Linked DNA regions of Homo sapiens. The protein of the gene in region 1 interacts with the protein of each later gene in a biochemical or structural test. Each region holds a gene or a part of one and is shown on either strand. Other genes may lie near its edges.

Region 1 (3,818 bases):
TGTCAATACCCCAGTGGGACCTGTCTTCCAGTGTCACCCACCCCGGAGCCACACCTGCCACTCTCGCTGATCCTCTCTGTGGTGACCTCTGCCCTCGTGGCCGCCCTGGTCCTGGCTTTCTCCGGCATCATGATTGGTGAGTGCACAGAGCCCCAGGGACTCCCAAGGGGGCAGGAAGGCAGGACTGAATAGTGTCTCAGGCTGTGCCACAGGTGCCAAGGTGTCACTTCGTTATGCTAGTCCCTGGAATTGGGTGGGGTGGTGATTAGGGCAGCCCAGGCCAAGCCAAAACGGAAGCTCCCAACCTTCCCCCCACCAGAGCAGCTGCAGTTCCCTGAGGAGCCCCTGATTCTGCACCTCAGCCCCGTGTGTATCCTCCTGGCTGATCAGGGGGTGGGGAGCTCCTTCAGTGTCCATCACGATGGTGAAAGCTCGCCCCCACCCCTAGACGTCACTTCTAGCTCCCACATGCTTCCACCGGCGCAGCTCCTGTTTGGCTCCCACCCTATGTAATGCACTAGCCCACTCTTCCCCAAACCAGCCCTCCACCACCCTCCAGGCAGAGAGATAGGAAAATCGGTTTCTGAGTATATTTCTGTTCAGCCTGTGAGCCAAGGTGAGCTGACCTGCAGGTCACAGAGAACTCAGTGTGGTCCCAACCAGCTCTTACTGCTGGCAGAGACATGCCCAGGACAGATGGGCAGAGGCTTGAAAAGGGCAGAGGGAAAGGCTCTTGAGAGCCCTCGCAGGCCAGGCCCCTGCAGGCAAAGGGATCTGCCGGTAGAAGGGAGATGGCAGCACACACTGTGTCCCCATATGGTGCCATCCCTCAAAGGGACAGGATAATAGGAGCTAACACTTGTTGCATGGTTACTACGTGCTCGGCAATTTACACATTTCAATTCATTCGATCCTCAGGTAACCCTAATCTGATCACGGTCGGTCCATTGCATAGAGGAGGGAACTGAGCACATAGCGGGTGACTCATTTGCCCTGGCCCATGTGTTGGGGGGCTGGGCTTTACACACAGAATCTACCCACTGAATCACAATTTTGTTCTGGCTTCCATGGAGTTTGCCTTCCAGAACATCCTCACATGTAGGAGTGATAATGGTCACTCACATTGGTAGAGCTCTTTAGGATTTTTCAAAACCATTTTATGTTGGTGAATTCATTTCATTGACAACCCTAGAGGGTGGGGAGTGGCAGTGGTTAGGGAAACAGGGCAGGAGTTACCATCCCTGCCTACAGAGAGGGAAACTGCAGTCCAAAGAGGTCCTGTGACCTGGTCCTCATGGCTCAGCTTGTAAGTAACAAGAGGCGGAATTAGAGCACAGATCCCCAGACACCAATTCAGAGATCTTTTCATGATGTGGCTCTTCTCCAACTCTGTGGCTTGGCAGTTCTCCAACTATAGGAAACACAACTGACCAAGATCCCAGCTGCACCCTCAAATCCACTGCTGTGATTGCACTGAAGCTGCCCTACCCAATGGCTGAGCACAGCAGAAATACTAAGGCAGGCCAATTCCTGGGAGTCATGGGACTCCTCTGATGACTGACTTTGGCTCCAGAACCCCTTAGGGCCTTGCTGAAACTTCCTTAGGCTCCATGGCACCCAGGGTGCTTCCACCCAACCTTCCCTCCCTCCCTCGTTCACGTGGGGTTATACTTGCAACACAGTCTGCTGGTTCACCCAGCCTTCCCTGGCTCCCTCCCCATTTCCTCTCATGGGCATTTCTTCTAATAAAATCTGCAGACCATATTGGGTCTAATCCCATCTCCAGTCTGCTTCTTGGAGGAACCAGACTAACATGACTCTGCCCTATATAATACAAATAATTATTTTCCATATATCTGATTTTTAGCTTTGCATTTACTTTAAATCATGCTTCAATTAAAGACACACCTTCTTTAATCATTTTATTAGTATTTCTAAGTATGATGGAAAGGTTCAGAGCTCAGGGGAGGATATGGAGATCCAGGGAGGCTTCCTGTAGGAAGTGGCCTGTGTAGTGCTTCAAGGGCCAGGCTGCCAGGCCATGTTGCAGCTGACCACCCACCTGCAGTGTACCGCCGGAAGCACCAGGAGCTGCAAGCCATGCAGATGGAGCTGCAGAGCCCTGAGTACAAGCTGAGCAAGCTCCGCACCTCGACCATCATGACCGACTACAACCCCAACTACTGCTTTGCTGGCAAGACCTCCTCCATCAGTGACCTGAAGGAGGTGCCGCGGAAAAACATCACCCTCATTCGGTGAGCGCCCTGCTGCCGTCCTGGGAGGAGAGGGGTGCAGTGTAGGGGCTGAATGTTATCACAGCACCGCAGACTCCTCTAGCCACAAAAGGCCGGCAGAGCCCTCCCTATGGGCACCCCTAGCCCTCCTAGGAGGACAAGCCTTGACATTCAGGGCCATGTATGTTGGCTTACATTAACTCCCATAGTTTATGGAGTTTATACAATGAGAGGAGAACCAGGGCTCTCCTCAAAATTCATTCAGATGTGCTCTCTCCAAGTCTACCTGGCTCCCCTTCCCTCCAGGGGAGCAGGGGAGCAAAGGGCCCCTCCTCTGAGCATCTAGAGCAACTGCGCCTTCCTCTGTCACTCACTGGAAATACTCCCCAGCCAGTACCCACAGTGATCTGTCTCTCCCCAAGGAGCATGAACCTCCCCCGGGGAAAAGCCATGGCTTATGCACCCCTGTGTCCCTGGCAAATATCAGAGACTCAATAACTACTGATTGAATGAATAAACATTTGACCATTGTCATGAGTCCCTGGTTGGAATCCTTCTTACCAGTTTTCAGGTGAAGAACTGGAAGCCCGAGATTGCATAGCAAAGCCATGTTGAGGGTATTACTCCTGAGTGTGTATGTTACCCCCGCCTCTCGTGTTTGTCCACTAAATGTGACGCCCAGGCTCAGGACCCCCAGCTGCCTCATTATTGTGGCCTGTTTGACTCTGTCTCCTCTTGTCTTCTCCTTTGCACAGGGGTCTGGGCCATGGCGCCTTTGGGGAGGTGTATGAAGGCCAGGTGTCCGGAATGCCCAACGACCCAAGCCCCCTGCAAGTGGCTGTGAAGGTAAGAAGTGGCTCACTCTTGAGCCTGCCCTTGGCTTGCGGACTCTGTAGGCTGCAGTTCTCAGCTCACAGCCTCCTCCTCCTCCCCACCCTCCCCTTCTCTGCCCAGACGCTGCCTGAAGTGTGCTCTGAACAGGACGAACTGGATTTCCTCATGGAAGCCCTGATCATCAGGTAAAGCCACAGAGAGACACCCTCACCCCAACTCCCCTCTGCCCCCAAAGAACCTGGAGAGGTTTCTAACAGATCGATATCTCCAAGGGAAATCGTGTTGTCCCTAGCATGTCCCCTTTTCTCCAGTAGGAGACTCCCAAACATTCTAGACACTTCTTACCAGAATGGAACAACCCTTGATGGTTGTTTCAGAAACAAAGTCTGTGTGGCCTAATAATCCCACCGATGTCACTGTCTGCAACCAGTATCCCTGCTGTTATCCACTGGTTCTTCTTCCCTCACTTTTTCTTAAGAAATGGAGCATGCTAGACTTTGACAGTACAAGATATAATCTCCCTCCAAGACCCTTCACCAATCCCAGTAATTGTGCTTCTAATATGATGGGAGGCCACCCCATCCTAGGCTCCCATCAGCAGGGCTGAGTCTCAGCTGGCTGCACCTTTTGACTTGAGGCTCCAAGATCTGGATTTAAGCTGAGAGTCTCAGTGCCTATGGCTCCTGAGGGCGTCCGCTGTGACAGCAGATCCCCTCAAGGAGGGGGCAGATATTTGACCTCAAGATCAGG
Region 2 (3,818 bases), on another chromosome or scaffold:
GATTTGGTCTCTCTACTTACCTGGCCACATGCCTCACATTTTTTATTCTAGTATACTTTTGCTTTTTATACTTTTAGTAGAGATGGGGTTTTGCCACGTTGCCCAGGCTGGTCTCGAACTCCTGGACTTAGGCTATCCACTCACCTCAGCTTCCCAAAATGTGGGATTACAGGCATGAGCCACCGTGCCCGGCCTTTATTCTAGTATACTAAAAAAGGTGTAGGTTCCCAAATGTGCCATCCTTTCTCTCACCTCCAGGGCTTTGTTTTCTCTGTTGGAACGAAGACAACTTACACTTCACCTGGATGACTTCTTAGTCTTTCTTTAAATATTACTTCCTCCTGAAAGCCTTCCCTGACTCTTCTTGTTTGCTCCTCTAACATCTCATAACCACTTTTTTCTTAGCACGTACCATGTTTTACTGTAATTGCCTTTTTACTTTTCTATCTCCTTCACTAGATTATAAGGTTCTTGAGGTCAGGGGCTTTGCCTTGCTACTGAATGCCCACTTTCTTTTTTTGGAGACAGAGTCTCACTCTGTCACCAAGCTGGAGTGCAGTGGCATGATCTCAGCTCACTGCAAGCTCCGCCTCCTGGGTTCATGCCATTCTCCTGCCTCAGCCTCCCGAGTAGCTGGGACTACAGGCGTCTGCCATCACACCCAGCTAATTTTTTGTATTTTTAGTAGAGACGGGGTTTCACCATGTTAGCCAGGATGGTCTCAATCTCCTGACCTTGTGATCCACCCACCTTGGCCTCCCAAAGTGCTGGGATTACAGGCGTGAGCTACCGCGCCTGGCCCGAATGCCCACTTCTAACACAGGATTTGTCATAGGGTTAAAGATATGCAGATATAGATATAAATATAGATATGAAATAGAGGCATAGTAGGGCATGGTATAGAAGCCCCAGACCCCACAACTAAATAAGTGGTCATGAGAATGGGAGACATCTAAGAAGTATTGTGTCACAGTGGAGAGGGCACGAGGTTTGGGGCCAGACAGACCTAGACTTGAATTATAGCTTTAGGTCTTGTTATATACGTATCCTTGATACTGTTTTACAAGCTTTCTGAACTGTTCTTTCCTCATCTGTAAGAGAACTATAGTATGGCTAGAGATCTTTCAAAAATAATACATGAATAGTGATATTGATATAAACAGATATATTATTCATACATTTGATACTTGTTTTTTTAGCTCTACCAGGTAAAGTAGATGGCACAGATGTGTACTCTTTCTTAAAAGGTAGAACTTTTGAAAAATGCATAATTATGGAAGTCTCCTTATTAAAATTTATTTATTTATTTATTTACTTATTTATTGGGACAGGGTCTCACTCCGGTTGCCCAGGCTGGAGTGCAGTGGCACGATCACGACTCACTGCAGCCTTGACCTCCCGGGCTCAGGTGATTCTTCCACCTCAGCCTTCCAAGCAGCTGGGACTACAGGTGTGCACCACCACGCCTGGCTAATTTTTTGTATTTTTAGTAGAAATGGGGTTTAGCTATGTTGCCCAGGCTAGTCTCGAACTCCTGAACTCAAGCAATCTACCTGCCTTGGCCTTCCAGGGTGCTGGGATTACAGGCGTGAGCTACTGTGCCCAGCCTGCTTGTTAAAATTTAAAATTTTATTATCCTTTAGCAAGTATAAAAATGTGTTCAAATGATTTGGTTTCTGATTCCCTTTCATTTGTTTTGCAGATCTCTATTAAGAGAAAAATACAAAGAATAAATGAGTAAGGCTCTTGAAACCATTGAATTGTACAAACTTTGGTGGTTTTAAATCTGGATTTGTGAATAGCTGAGCCCGTTCACTGTCCCATTTTGGAGAACCATGAGGCATTCTACAATCTAGCCCTTCTCCAGGTGGATGCTTACCTGTCCGCCCAACCACATTTATCTGATTCTTCAGGGACCCGCTGACTGAGGCAATCATGATCTGGTACTGCTCCCCGGCCTCCAGTCTGTGGAACGTGTGCTCAAAGACGTGCTTGGGAATAGTCTGAGAGTCAACCTTTTGACTGTGCCTGAATGCCGACACCGTGTAGGAATCAACGTCTCCCCCACCAGGAGTCCAGTTCACCGTCAGGCTATCTGTTGCTCCATTGGGAGAAATGTGAATATTTTTGACAGCACTAGGAACTAAAACAGAAAATAAATTTAAAAGTCATCACTTAGAGAATGAACTGTTGAAATTTTCAAACAAAGTTTTGAATGCTTCTGATGTTTTGGCACCCACTGAGAGAACTCACATGAAAAAGAAAGTAACAATTTGCCACTTTTCTCTGATTTTTCTGTGTGAACTAAAGTTGATGGGGGAAAGCTTAGGGGGAAGTCAAAGCCGGTGAGTGGAAATGAGGAATGCTAATTATATAGCGAGGGGCTAGTTAGGGTGTCTTGGTCCAAGTTTTGGTTTTCTCACTCACTAGCTGTGGGACTACAGGCAAATTACTTGACCTCTGTAAGTTTTAGTTTCTTCATTAGGAAAAATGGCAGTGATGATAATACTAACCAGCCCATAGAGTTGTGAAGATTGATTCTTTTTTAATTTAATTTTATTTTATTTTTGAGGTAGGGTCTCTGTCTGTTGTCCAGGCTGGAGTGCAATGGCATGATTATGGCTCACTGCATCCTATACCTCCTGGGCTCAAGTGATTCTCCCACCTCAGCCTCCCCAGTAGCTGGGACTACAGGCACGTAACACCGTGCCCGGCTAATTTTTTTGTATTTTTTGTAGAGACAGGGTTTTGTCATGTTGCCCAGGCTGTGCTTGAACTCCTGGGCTCAAGCTATCCTCCTGCCTTGGCTTCCAAAGCATTGTGAAGACTGAACAAGATGTAGACATAAAATGCTTTGCTGTGGGTCTGGTTCATGGTGAACTGTCAGTACATGTTAACTACTATGGCAACACTCCTAAAAGAGTTCTAAAGAAGTGATACCCAAGTAACACTTAATTCTTAATCTGTGTGCCTCAGAAGCACCAGCTGATCACATCAGTTCATTGCTATTTCTCTGAAAGCACCCTCCAACCCCGCCACTCTCTGCTGACATCATACTTTATTTTCATTCATCCAGGTTGGACAACATCATTGTCACTATCAACATGACTTTGTCCCTTCTTGCTGTCTCCCTTTTATCCCTCCAAATGCTCAATCGAAATACCTGAACTACCCGAAAGTTAAATGCACCACTGCATCTATTCAGGTTCAAGAACAGTATTTCACATTACCTGTGAAGCCCTCAATGAAGGCTGACTGCTGTACATCCCCGCTAATCGTCAAGACAAGAATTTTGTATTGGCGGCCTGGTGTTAGGGAAGTAAATCGATACTCGGTTGCGGTATTTACAAGGTGAAAAGGAGGAAATACTTTCATGTCATTGAAGAGCAGCTGGATCTCATATTGGTCGACATCCCCATTAGCTCCTGACCAAGTCACATGCAAGTCCTCAGTGCTCCTGTTGCGCAATGTTAGATCCTTAACAGGCTCTGGAACTAGGGAGAAAAATGAGAAGACATTTCAGGAAAGGAACTGATCAGAGTTTACCTACATAATAATTTATGAATCACATTCAAGGAACTGGCAACATCTCCCTTCCCCAAATAAACCACTAGCACTACTTCATGCATAATTAAACAAGAAAAATTGGAAGCAACTATTAACATTGTGGTTTTTTCCTGACATAAATGTTACATGATCAGCATTGGTAGAACATAATTATAAAATGAGTTATGATCTCAATCATAAGATAAAACAAGAAGTCTAGAATCTAAATGCCATGATGCAGGAAGATAGGGAAGAAAAATGGGACATTTAGC

What was found.
Region 2: of the proteins of ALK (region 1) and PTPRB, one has a biochemical effect on the other in vitro, tested with the Homo sapiens proteins (one large-scale study listed by IntAct).

The regions. Positions count from the first base shown.
Region 1 is NC_000002.12:29,221,779-29,225,596, reverse strand, and holds part of ALK (ALK tyrosine kinase receptor isoform 1 precursor), read left to right. Parts: intron 1-31; coding exon 32-136; intron 137-1,773; exon of another isoform or gene 1,774-2,068; coding exon 2,069-2,255; intron 2,256-2,989; coding exon 2,990-3,080; intron 3,081-3,188; coding exon 3,189-3,253; intron 3,254-3,818. UniProt on the Homo sapiens protein: Neuronal receptor tyrosine kinase that is essentially and transiently expressed in specific regions of the central and peripheral nervous systems and plays an important role in the genesis and differentiation of the nervous system.
Region 2 is NC_000012.12:70,567,796-70,571,613, forward strand, and holds part of PTPRB (receptor-type tyrosine-protein phosphatase beta), read right to left. Parts: intron 3,656-3,818; exon of another isoform or gene 3,495-3,655; coding exon 3,231-3,494; exon of another isoform or gene 2,144-3,230; coding exon 1,880-2,143; exon of another isoform or gene 1,703-1,879; intron 1-1,702. UniProt on the Homo sapiens protein: Plays an important role in blood vessel remodeling and angiogenesis. Not necessary for the initial formation of blood vessels, but is essential for their maintenance and remodeling. Can induce dephosphorylation of TEK/TIE2, CDH5/VE-cadherin and KDR/VEGFR-2.